2 linked regions of the Homo sapiens genome follow. The gene in region 1 interacts genetically with each later gene. Each region holds a gene or a part of one and is shown on either strand. Other genes may lie near its edges.

What was found.
Region 2: changes in DDX11 (region 1) and NIPBL are lethal when combined (synthetic lethality), as found in Homo sapiens cells (one study listed by BioGRID).

The regions. Positions count from the first base shown.
Region 1 is NC_000012.12:31,083,860-31,091,072, forward strand, and holds part of DDX11 (ATP-dependent DNA helicase DDX11), read left to right. Parts: coding exon 1-202; intron 203-723; coding exon 724-810; intron 811-1,109; coding exon 1,110-1,267; intron 1,268-1,273; exon of another isoform or gene 1,274-2,353; intron 2,354-2,366; exon of another isoform or gene 2,367-3,452; intron 3,453-4,078; coding exon 4,079-4,124; intron 4,125-5,184; coding exon 5,185-5,292; intron 5,293-5,543; coding exon 5,544-5,631; intron 5,632-6,026; coding exon 6,027-6,235; intron 6,236-7,213. UniProt on the Homo sapiens protein: DNA-dependent ATPase and ATP-dependent DNA helicase that participates in various functions in genomic stability, including DNA replication, DNA repair and heterochromatin organization as well as in ribosomal RNA synthesis.
Region 2 is NC_000005.10:37,061,622-37,066,979, forward strand, and holds the end of NIPBL (nipped-B-like protein), read left to right. Parts: intron 1-2,168; coding exon 2,169-2,357; coding exon of another isoform or gene 2,358-2,402; exon of another isoform or gene 2,403-2,905; coding exon 2,906-3,271; 3' UTR 3,272-4,792; downstream 4,793-5,358. UniProt on the Homo sapiens protein: Plays an important role in the loading of the cohesin complex on to DNA. Forms a heterodimeric complex (also known as cohesin loading complex) with MAU2/SCC4 which mediates the loading of the cohesin complex onto chromatin.

The sequences.
Region 1 (7,213 bases):
CTTTGAACAGAAGAAGCGTGAAGAAGAGGCACGACTCCTTGAAACTGGAACTGGCCCCTTACATGATGAGAAAGATGAATCCCTGTGTCTGTCTTCTTCCTGCGAAGGGGCTGCAGGCACCCCGAGGCCTGCTGGAGAACCGGCCTGGGTTACTCAGTTTGTGCAGAAGAAAGAAGAGAGGGACCTGGTGGACCGACTAAAGGTGAGACCTGGGGTATCCGGAAGTGGGAGTACTGGAGGAAACAGGGCTTCAGCGATTGTTCTGGGGCGATTCCGAGACTCAGGCAGTGCATGCTCCCCTGCCGTTGCCGTGCCTCTCAGCTCTTCCCTCAGCTCCTTGGGTCTATGGTGCTGCCGCTGTGCTGTCTTTTTTGAGCTGGAGGTCAGCAGGCCTTCTCCACATAAGGAACTGTTGGTGCCCATTTATTACTCACCTGGGAAAGGACCTGATCATTGCCATTGGCAGCATGGTTCAATGGCTGCAAATGGATCTGATGGAGAGCGTGTGGCTTTGGGAGGAGTGTGCCGCCTTCCGCAGTGAGCAGCGAGGCTGGGACCGGCAGGGATGAGGTCCCGGGAGGGGATGCGGCAGCCCTTGAGTGCTGGCCGGGGAAGGAGAGATGCCCCCAGTGAGGAGGCGCCGGGCTGAGTGGCCCAGACTCCTTAGGAGAGGCCTGGTTTTGGGCTTCCTTGGTGATTTTCCTTCATGTCTGCCTCCTGTAGGCGGAGCAGGCCAGGAGGAAGCAGCGAGAAGAACGCCTGCAGCAGCTGCAGCACAGGGTGCAGCTCAAGTATGCAGCCAAGCGCCTGGTGAGCCTCATTTCTTGGGGGGCAGGATTATGTCCAGGCAGGGTTGCTCTGCTTGGAGGCTCATGGGTGCGTGGTCAGGGCCTTGGTCTCCCCTCCGTGACCCTCACTGGCTATGTGCTCCCGTACAGAAGCTGGGCTGTGAGTGGTTGAGGCGTGGATCCTAGGAGTCGACCTCTCTCCAGCCAGGCAGCCAGGCCTATGTGAATGGGGCGTGGTGTGCTTTGTCTCTGGCATGTGGGGAGGTGGGTACTGGTGCTGAGACTTCTTCCTCCCTCACCACCTCCACTACCCCTGTCCAGAGGCAGGAAGAAGAAGAAAGAGAGAATCTCCTCCGCCTCAGCAGGGAGATGCTAGAGACAGGCCCGGAGGCTGAGCGGCTGGAGCAGCTGGAGTCTGGGGAGGAGGAGCTGGTCCTCGCCGAATACGAGAGTGATGAGGAGAAAAAGGTGGCGAGCAGGTGAGACAGAGGCGGTAGCACTACCCTGCCCCAGGCCAGGGGACACCCTTGAAGACAGCTCTTTCCCTCATGCCACAGATGCCATGAAGCACCTGGCAAGAGGCATGGTGGCCTCTGCCCTCTGCTCTAAGCCGGGTCCTTCCTAGGGTCCATGAGTGCCAGTGGCAGTGAGGACAGTCACCGGCCTGGCCTGTGTCCTCTCAGCTGTCCTCACGGCAGCTCAGGCAGGGCAGGAACATTTGTGTCTGCGCCTTATACACAAGGAGGCTGCAGCCCCACAAGGAGAGACTCCTTGGCTGAGGCCACAAGCCTCGGCAGTGGAGAGCTGGGCTAGAACTCAGCTGGCCTGGCTCTAGATCTCAGGCTCTGAGGCAGCTGACTGCACTGGGTAACCTGTGAGGTGCCAACCATCAAGGCGTCCTTAGCCTGAGCTTTCCTTCTCCCATAAAGCCTCTGTTGGTCCAGACTCAAGGTTTCCACTTGATGAGCCATGAGCTGCTGGGTGACTTAGCCCTGAGCAGGCCACCCAGGCCATTTCGGGCCCACAGGATCCCTGGTCACAGCCCTGTTCCCATTCACACTGGAACCTCACCACCATCCCTGAGTGTCTGCTCTGAGTATGGCACTGTCCAGATGCTGTGGACATAGAAGGGAAGAAGACATGGAGGGGACAGTTAATAGACATGAAAACAAATAGCACCTATGTGAAGTCAGCATGTTTGCCTACAAGGAAAACAAAATGGTGATGTGGATGGGGTGGGGGGCTGCACCTGATGATGAGTCCCGTGTGTCCTGTGACATCCTGGCCACCACATCTGTCGGAGGGTAACTGCAAGACCAGAGACCCTCCATGGATATTCCTGAAGGTTCATCCCCGGCCTTCACAGTCTGTCTGCAGGGCGCCTTCTGATGCCACCTCCAGCCGCCATCCACCAGACGCCAGCTTCCCCGCTGCCCTGAACTTCCTCCAGCGCACCAGGCCTTCCTCTGTCCTGTCTGAGGATTTGCTCATGCAACGTGCTGTGGCCAAACACCCTGCCCTCCTCCCTTGGCAGATGTCTTCCTCTCCTTTAAGGCCTGGCTCAGGTGTCGTCTTGGTGGCTTCGGGTGTCAGCTGCTCTGTTTTGCTCATGCACCTGCTTGTGCTTCTGTTGTTGCCTCCTCTCCCTGGCTGGGCTCGAGCTGCTTCAGGGCAGGAACCACGTCTTTATAGTTTGATGTTCCCAGAGCTGACCCAGTGTTTGGCATAGGGGTGTGCTCAATAAAATCGAGTTGACATGAATGAGCAGATGCTGCCTCGTTGCAGTCTGGTAGTGTAATTCCAGGCTGCGCATGTGAACTTCGACTTCTGCCCCTGCCCAGGGCAGAGACCACCGTGTTGCTTTATGCCTCGCTGGTGAGAGGGGGTCATAAACAGTTTGTGCTCCATGAACCCTTCCTGCCCGCCTCCGAGGTCATGTTTCTGCTCCCTCTCTTCTCCCTTAGAGCCCGTGGGGACAAGGCAGAGAACTTGAGTGGAGATGGAGGTGGTGAATATTAAAGGAACAAAGTGCTCCTTCAGGTCTGGGCAAGAGCCATGGATCCTGTAGGTCAGCTTCTGGGGCTTCCCATGCCCTCACGTTTCAGGAGATAACGTGAGCCTCGGAGGACCTGAGTTCTGAATAGAAAATTTTTGCTCTTCATTTCTTCACACACCCAGCCTCTCAGTGAGCTCCTGCTGGCTTTGTCCAGCATGCGACATAAGATTGAATCCAAGCCTTTTAAGATAGAGCCGCCTGCTCTTTAGTGACCATGAAGCCAAGCCTGTAATAATTACTCTTCTGATAGCCCAAGACAATTGTATTCTGTTTTGTTAGAAAGGAATTTCGAGGTGAACAAAAATGTTTTCTTTTTATGTGATGTTGCCATAGGTAGCGTGTGCCTGTCAGATGGTTTTGTGTTTTCTGAGGAGCATAGACTAGTAGAGCTAGCTCAGCTTCAGGCCATGGGATGCAGGGCTGGCTTCCCTGCCAACGCCTGGCGCTGATGGATTCTTCCCGCATTGCTGGGAAGGGCAGACTGAGGCACTGACACAAGAAGAGTTGTAGCTGGTCATAAGTGACAGCATCCTCTGTTCACTCGATTGGTCAGTTGTAGCTTCATCCAGGAGATGGTCATGGGGTTCCTGCTGCATACCAAGCTCTAGGTGAGGCCACGGGGACTCAGCAGAAACAAGGCCGACCTGGGTCCTCCCTTGTGGACATGACAGTCTGGGGAGATAGACCGAGAGGAAGCGATTTTGAATGAGATGGGTGTGAAGAGCAGGGGCCATGAATCTGTGTCAGAGCAGCCAGGCCTACCAGGGAAGGTCAAAGAAGGCTTCCTGGAGGAGGTGATGTTTCTGCTGCTATCTCAGAGTTGACTGGGAGCTGGTGAGGGGAGACAACATTCCAGGCACAGAACATCCGAAGGCCTGAGATGATGAAGAGCAAATATCCGCCCTGGGGCCTCAGAGGGGTCCAGCTTGCTGGAGGGAGGGCAGAGAGGAGAGCAGCCTGCCATGAGTCCCGAGGCTTCCGACTCAAGACTTGGGTTGGGGGTGCTGAGCCCCTTTCTCCTTTTTACATTTCCCTACCCACAGACCTGAGCGGCCATGGGAGGTTGGGGTTGGCATTTGCCTGGGGGAGTTTCTGAGCGAGCAGCACCTGCTACCTTGGTGGAACCCATTGCTGGGAATGGCCAGGGCTCAGCACCAGCGCTCAGCAGATGCTCAGTGCGTTTTGCTGAGTTTGCTGAGGGAAGACTGTTTTCTGTTCTCTCTCACACACACAGAGTGGATGAGGATGAGGATGACCTGGAGGAAGAACACATAACTAAGGTAACACAAGTGTCCTCAGCTGGTGCTGTGCTGGGGGTATAGGCTGGGCTGTGCACCCCTGGGGAGGAGGCTGGAGTCACTTGGCTACTTCTCACCCTCCTCTCCACAAAGGAGGAGCTTCCAGCACTTGGACTCCGTTGCTTCTTGCACACAACCCTGGTCCTAAGTTGCTCCCTTGGCCAGCTGCAGTGGACCCTGGAGTCCTCTCCTGGGGTCAGGGCCTGGGGAGTCCTCTCCTGGGGAGACCTTTCCTGGGAACAGGGACCTGAGGAGACCTCTCTTGAGTTTGGGGCCTGGGGAGACATCTCCTGGGTTCGGGGCCTGGGGAGACCTCTCCTGGGGGCAGGGCCATGCTTGCCACCCCAGGGCATCGAGGAACAGCTGTTCTGGGCTGAAATCTGGGTGTTTTCTGTCCCTGCTGGGTGGTACGGGTAGGACAGACATGAGTCCCCTGCCCTTTGGGTCTCTCATGGTGTGCTTCTCCCTTTGTCTGTGTTCCCATTTGCATGGAGGGCTATGGGTTGTGTATGGTCTGACATTTCCCATTTGGTTTCATTGATTTATGACTTGTTTTCTGTCGGAAGTAGGTATTTTCTTTGTATTTTCTTTTTTTCTCCCTTCACTCTTGCCTTAGAGGAGTAGAGAGAGGGTATTCTGGTCAGCCTTCCTTTTTCCCTTTGGGGATGTGTGTGACACACTCCCTCCCCTCCCACCAACAACCCACCCTCCCCAAGTGGGGACCCTTTGCCACGGGAGATGGTCACCCATGTCCAAAGATTGGCCAACCCCCCAAAAGCGGTTGATTAGAGGCTGGATATGACTCGTGGAAGGAGCTGCCTTTGGGGCATTCCCTTGAACTTCTGGAGCTGTGGGTGACTTGGGAATCCCTGGGTCCCTCGATAGATGCCTGACATGGGACATTGCTGTCCTGCCTCGGCTTTGTGCATTGGGAGCCACTCCCTTTCCCTCAGCCTCTCAGGCCCTGGCGTGCCTTGATGTTAGAGAATGCTGTGGGATGTTTTGGTTCTCTCTTTGAAGCGCCTTTCTTTCTCTCTGCTAGATTTATTACTGTAGTCGGACACACTCCCAGCTGGCCCAGTTTGTGCATGAGGTGAAGAAGAGCCCCTTTGGCAAGGATGTTCGGCTGGTCTCCCTTGGCTCCCGGCAGGTAAACAGTAGCCAGTATTTCCACCAGGGGCCATCCTGCTCCTTTCGCCACAACTTTGTCCTGCTCGTCCAGGCCTTGGGAGACGCTGGGTCTGTGACAGGCTGAACCGTGTGAGGAGCAGCCCCCTCCCTGACCTGGCCGGCCCAGCACTGGAAGGCAAAGGAGAGGTGGCGGGGCAGGTCCACGTGTGTTGGTAGGATGTCATTTAGCTGGCACCATCTTTTTGCCTCTTTCTTTCTCCTTTGCTGCAGAACCTTTGTGTAAATGAAGACGTGAAAAGCCTAGGTTCTGTGCAGCTTATCAACGACCGCTGTGTGGACATGCAGAGAAGCAGGCACGGTAGCCACTGGGACCATGGTGTAGCCGCAGGTGGTCTGGAGAGAGTGAGGCAGGGGTGGCAGTGACTGAAGACCATTAAGTGTCTTTCATAGAAAGAATGGCAGAGGAGACCCCAGTTCCTTCCTGAGTCCCCTCTCCTTGGGAAAAAGTGTTCCTACTCTCTGGGTCAGTGTCTGGTCCGAATCCTTGGCTTGGAGATGATTTTACGGGCTCTTTCTGGAGAACAGAAGTAAAACCTTACAGTGTTCCGATGAGACCACAGTAGGCAGTACTTGGGAGGGTCTTATAGACCCTACCCCATGGAAGTGGGTCTCAACATTACACAACCCCCTCTTGGGCCCGTGGACAGTTGCTGTCCTCTCTGTTTTCTCTCTTTGTGCCTGTGCCACCCTCAGAGAAGAAGAAAGGAGCTGAGGAGGAGAAGCCAAAGAGGAGGAGGCAGGAGAAGCAGGCAGCCTGCCCCTTCTACAACCACGAGCAGATGGGCCTTCTCCGGGATGAGGCCCTGGCAGAGGTGAAGGACATGGAGCAGCTGCTGGCCCTTGGGAAGGAGGCCCGGGCCTGTCCCTATTACGGGAGCCGCCTTGCCATCCCTGCAGCCCAGGTGAGGGCCCTGCAGGGCCAGAAAGCCGCTCTTGACTCTCACTGTGGTCTAGGCCATGAGGGGGGTCCTCATCACACTGTAGTTTGGGGGATGCCCCCCACCGTGGTCAGGTTGATGGCACCTTAACCCATTCTCTCCTGATGTGTGAGTTGGAGGAGGCGCGTGGGATCCCTTGGGGTCTCCAGGCAGCAGGGCCAGTTGGCATTACTGGGGATGGTATTTAGGAGCCAGGAAAGCCGGTGCATTCCTAGTGAAACCACAGGGAGAGGGGGGATGCCAGGAGCTGAGAAGAGTGTGCTGCATACATCTATTTACAAATGGCTTTCCAAGTGATGCTCCCAACTTCCATGCCTATGATGTGATGGAGGATGTCAGTGATAGAACCATTCAGTTTTCCAGTTTTTCCTTTTTGTAATATCAGTACTCTTAACTGGAAAGCTTTCCCTAACTTACACCTACCTGCAGCACGTGAGAATACTGTCTTCTCTGCCTCAACTTCTCTTGATTTTTAAACAGAAGGAAGAACTGCTAATGTAGCAGATCAAAAGTAGTATCTCACTGTTATTTGGTGGGTGCAGTTTCACTATTTCCTTGCTACTTCTTTAATTTGAGTGACTTTGGAAACGGGATATCACTAGTGGAAAATTCTGTATAATCCAGAAAAAAATGTAAGGTTTTAAAAGATTCAGGGAACTAAGTAACCATTTGCACAGCAGCTAAATGCTCACCAGCATACCTGCTGAGCTGTGTGGGCACTGGCAGAGAAACTGAGGAAAGCTGCCAGGCCCCATGGTGTCCCAGGCCTTCCCTCCCGTCTGTTTGCCTTTAGAGCAAGATTAGTGCTATAGGCATTTATACACAAATACCATAATATGGCCCAAAATCTTTACAATTTTTGAATTTTTAAAGTACTTTGACCATATTTTGCTTTTATGTTAATAGTATTCCAGTGAAATTCTGTGCATGGGGACACTGGAG
Region 2 (5,358 bases), on another chromosome or scaffold:
TGACCTGAGATTGCACCATTACACCCCATACTGGGTGACAGGAGTGAAACCCTGTCTCAAAAAAATTATTTAAAAAGCATAGTATTTGCATATAACCTACATACATCCTCCCATATGCTTTAAGTCATTTCTAGATTACTTATAATACCTAATACAATGTAAATGCTATATACATAGTTGTTATACTGCATTTTTTTTAAGTTGTATTTTTTATTGTAATGCTGTTTGTTTTGTTTTGAGACGGAGTTTCACTCTTGTTGCCCAGGCTGGAGTGCAATGGCGCGATCTCGGCTCACCGCAACTTCTGCCTCCCAGGTTCAAGCAAGTCTCCTGCCTCAGCCTCCCGCATAGCTGGGATTACAGGCGCCAGCCACCACGCCCGGCTAATTTTTGTATTTTTAGTAGAGATGGGGTTTCACCATGTTGGCCAGGCTGGTCTCAAACTCCTGACCTCAGGTGATCCGCCGGCCTCCCAAAGTGCTGGGATTACAGGCATGAGCCACCATACCTGGCCAGTGCTGTTATTTTTTATTGTGGCATTTTCCAAATAGTTTTTGATCCACTGTGGGTTGAATCCGCAGGTGCGGAATCCGGGGATACAGAGGGCTATGTTTTTAATTCAGAAAAATACATGGCTTATATGTCATAAAAGGTAAAACTGCAAGCAGTCATTCTCTTACCGTGTTTGGCTATTCTGTTCCTTTCTTTTCTGATAACCAATATTATTACTTTTTCGTATGTTCTTATATGAGTAATGCCAATATATATATATGTAGATTTTCTCACTTATCAAGTATGCAAATGTATGTATATAAAATGTGCTTTAAAAATAGAGACAGATAATAGACTAGAGGTTACCAAGGACCGGGGAAGGAAAGAACGGGGAGTTATTGTTTAATGAGGACAGCTGTGGTTTCCAGTGATTAAAAAAAAAAAGAAACAGCTCTGGAAATGGACAGTGGTGATAGTTGTACAATATGCCAATGAATTATACATTTAAAATGGTTAAACTGGTAGGCTGGACATGCTGGCTTATACCTGTAATCTTAGCACCTTGGGAGGCCTATGTAGGAGGTTTGCTTGAGTCCAGGAAGTCCAGGCCAGCCTGAGCAACAGGGTGAGACCCTGTCTCTACAAAAAATACAAACATTAGCCAGACATGGCGGTGTGCACCTGTAGTCCCAACTGCTGGGGAGGCTGAGGTGGGAGGACCACCTAAGCCTGGGAGGTGGAGGCTACAGTGAGCCATGATCGTGCCACTGCACTTCAGCCTGAGTGACAGAGTGAGACCCTGTCTCAATTTAAAAAGAAAAAAAAAAAGGGTTAAGCTGGCAAATTTTATGATATTTCTATTTTATCACAATATAAAAGTTTTTAAAAATGTTTTTGAAATTAGAGGACTATCCTAAAAAATAAAAATAAAGTTTTATATTTTAATCTACTTAATTTCAGGTGTAGTGGCTCACAAGCACTTTGGGAGGCTGAGGTGGGCAGATCACTCGAGGCCAGAGGTTTGACACCAGTTTGGCCAACATTGCAAAACCCCATTTCTATTTTTCTTAAAAAAATTTTTAAAAATCTACTTTAAAGCAAGTAGCTGAACATAAAATAAGGTTTTTTGAACTAAGAATATAATCTACACAGTGGCTTTTCATATTATTCATTGACTGCAAACCTTACTCTAAAATTTAAAAATATTTTAGTTCTTATTTAAAATTTTTCAACATTCTTTGCTTTCTCTTGTATCGTCTTAGCAGAGAGCAAAGAGGGGAGATAACTAGAAAATGTCTATCAGTAATTATCACCTGATTGCTTGATGACTTGGACCAAGGGTCTGAAAACTCTGGCTGTTTTTGTATCTAACCCATTGCCTGTTTTTGCAAACAAAGTTTTATTGAAAACATTCATGCCCACTCATTTATTTGTCTGTAGCTGCTTTCATACTACAGTGGCAGAGTTGGGTAGTTGTGACAGACTATTTGACCTTCAAAATGAAAAATATTTACCACCTGGCTGTTTACAGAAAATGTTTACTAGCCCCTAATTTAGATGATGGCTAACGTCTGTTTCACCCACACCAAACTACTGCCATAGAAAACATTTAGGAATTTGACAATCTTGCTTGAAATATTTACTTAAAATTCTGAAATAATATCTGTTTTTTGTAGTTCAAACTTCTCATGGAACATCTGGACCCTGATGAAGAAGAAGAAGAAGGGGAGGTTTCAGCTAGCACAAATGCTCGGAACAAAGCAATTACCTCACTGCTTGGAGGAGGCAGCCCTAAAAATAATACAGCAGCAGAGACAGAAGATGATGAAAGTGATGGGGAGGATAGAGGAGGAGGCACTTCAGGGGTGAGGCGGAGGAGGAGTCAACGTATTTCGCAGCGTATTACGTAAAATGATTTTTATGTGCTTATATATGTCAGTCTATTAAATGTACACCAAGTAATGTAATACTTAAAAGAGAAAACATTTTGTAGATAGAGATTCTCTACTTACCCGTTTATACATCCTTTTGTAGAAAGTTTAACATAAAAGACAATAAAAAAACAGAAATGAGATTTATCCAGCATAAAGGGTTAATTTTTCTTTGAATTGTATTAATGTGTGTTATTTTTATTGTTGCTAAGTTTTATGTAGCTATATGGTTCATATGTATATATAATTTTATATATCAATAAGAGTAAAGACACGGGTACAAATTAAGAGTTATATGGTTTTACAAGTATATGTTAACCCCTTGGCGCTGGCGGTCACGGTGCGTCTCATTGCCGGCAATGGAAGTGTGCCGGGAAATCCCAACTCCCGGCGTCAAGGGATTAAAAGCAATAAAAACAATAATTTCACTAAAATTCTTTTGTGTAACACTTGGTCTTTTTTCCCCCCTCCCAATGTTTTAGTCATTGAGAAGGTCAAAACGAAATTCAGACTCTACGGAGTTGGCAGCACAGATGAATGAAAGTGTTGACGTCATGGATGTCATCGCTATTTGCTGTCCAAAGTACAAAGATCGACCACAAATTGCAAGAGTAGTGCAGAAAACCAGCAGTGGCTTCAGTGTTCAGTGGATGGCAGGCTCCTACAGTGGCTCCTGGACTGAGGCTAAGCGCCGTGATGGCCGCAAACTGGTGCCTTGGGTAGACACTATTAAAGAGTCAGACATTATTTACAAAAAAATTGCTCTAACGAGTGCTAATAAGCTGACTAATAAAGTTGTTCAGACTTTACGATCCCTGTATGCCGCCAAGGATGGGACTTCCAGCTAATGAATTTGTACATGCAGCCAAATTTACAGGAATTTTTTTAAAAGGCAGAAAAACTTGAAATACCAACATTCTGGCAAAAAAAAATCAGTTTTATGAAGAGTAAGTGGAACCTGGGATGCAGGAACAAAAGAAGGAAATGTTGGGCAAACATTTTTGTGGGAGCTCCCTTCGCTGTTGTGCAGCAGAAACAGATTCTCAGTTCATTTTTACTCCCACTGTATTATAGTTTAACAAAAATTGTTTATATCTTGGAAAAAAAACTTTCTGTTTAAAAAAAATAAACAAGTGAATGTTGGAAATTAGTCTGTTAATGTTCTTAATAAAGTGTTCTTGGAGTTTAACCTAGCAGCGGATGGCTTTCTTTAGCTTAGCCCAGTTTCCAGGGAAGCATTGTTTTTTCCAGGCTGTAAAATGGCAGAATCTCCTGGATATATAATTTATTCTGTTGAAAAAAAAAAAAGCATGCAGTATCTATGACCTATCTGCAGAAGGAGTTTTTGTAAATGTAGATTTTGATGTATTAGGTCACCCTGAAAACAATACAAGAAAAGGGATCCCCAGGTAATCTGGTGGAGCGAATACTGCAATAAATTTTTTTACTTCTCTTTGTTACTTGTCTGTTTCCATTTGAATTTCTTATTGTAAAAATCTGTTTAAATCCATTTATATTATTTTACAGTCTTTTATGTAAAATTTATTATATCACTGGTTTTCAAAGCAAAACATAAAATATTGTTTATACAGTTTGTATAGGCTGACTTCTGAATAATTGGTATCTATTATTTTCATTCCCATAAGAGGGTGTAAACAATTAACTCCAGGGTTTTATTGTATCCTGCAATATTTAGTATTAACTATATATGATTTAGCACTGTGCCAAACACATTTTCAAGAGTACATTTTGATATAAAAAGAAACTATAGTTTATTCCTTGTATGCTTCAATTTCTTTCTAGTGATGTCATGATGCTGATATTTATTCTTTAAACCTCGGGTAAAGGTAACCTGTTATTTGGAAAACCAGCATTTCTCTTGGTTAAAATGATGTCCGGTTATTTTAGAACTAGAGTTGAGATGAATATGACACTTCATAATTACACTCACTACATTTTTCACAAATTATTTTTTAATGCTGAAAAGAGTAATTTTACTTGTTGAGATGTTTATTCATTTTCTAATCTATGCTAAAAGCTTTTATCATAAGTCTTGGGAACAGTTGTCATTTACACATTACTTACTGCAGATATCTTGACTAAATCAGGAGGGAGGTGTTTAATCATTTGATATGTATAGTTGACACTCAGGAATAGTAATGCCTAAAATTTACAGTGGATGAGGTCTGTTTCAAGTTTAATTCTTTTTAAAAATGTTTTACTTATTTTTAAATCACTTTGAAAAAATTGACCTCCAGAATGCTGTTTTATGAAATTGGCAAATAAATGAAGGTATTCAATTTTTGAGGAAGAATGACATTGCCACAAAATACCTTTTTGTGACACCTATTAAACCACTATGAAAATAACTTTTCAGGATCTATTTCCTATGTGGAATTCTTTCAAATGCTTTCTTCACGGAAATGTTTTCTCACTCTTCGTTTTGTTCCCCTTACTTACATGTTTCTCTTTTCCTTATACTGTGAACTCTGGAACAAAACTAGATTGGGTTGGTTGGTTGGTTGGTTGGTTCTTCTTGGAGTTTATGTATATCAACAAAGGATTTGAGGTCACTTCTGAGAATAATATATCAAAAAGGGTACTGGTTAGAGAAAATATAAGAATAAAATCCAGCCCAGAGAGAGTACTAAGAATGTAAATGTGAGTAAAAAGCCAGTTTTGAATTCTATTTACGTGACAGTGATGCATGCTGTCATTTAATTCTCACAAAAACTCTCGTTATATATTTTATCCTCATTTTGTAGATGAGGATAGCAGGCTTAGAAGGATTTGGTAATTTACTAATGTCATGATAGGGATTTAAATCTGGAATTGAAGTAATTGTGTCTCACTACTCTAAGCTAATTGAACATCAGACATTAAGAGAGATGATCCTTATTGAAGTAAACCAGTTCCTAAAGGATCCTTGTAGTAT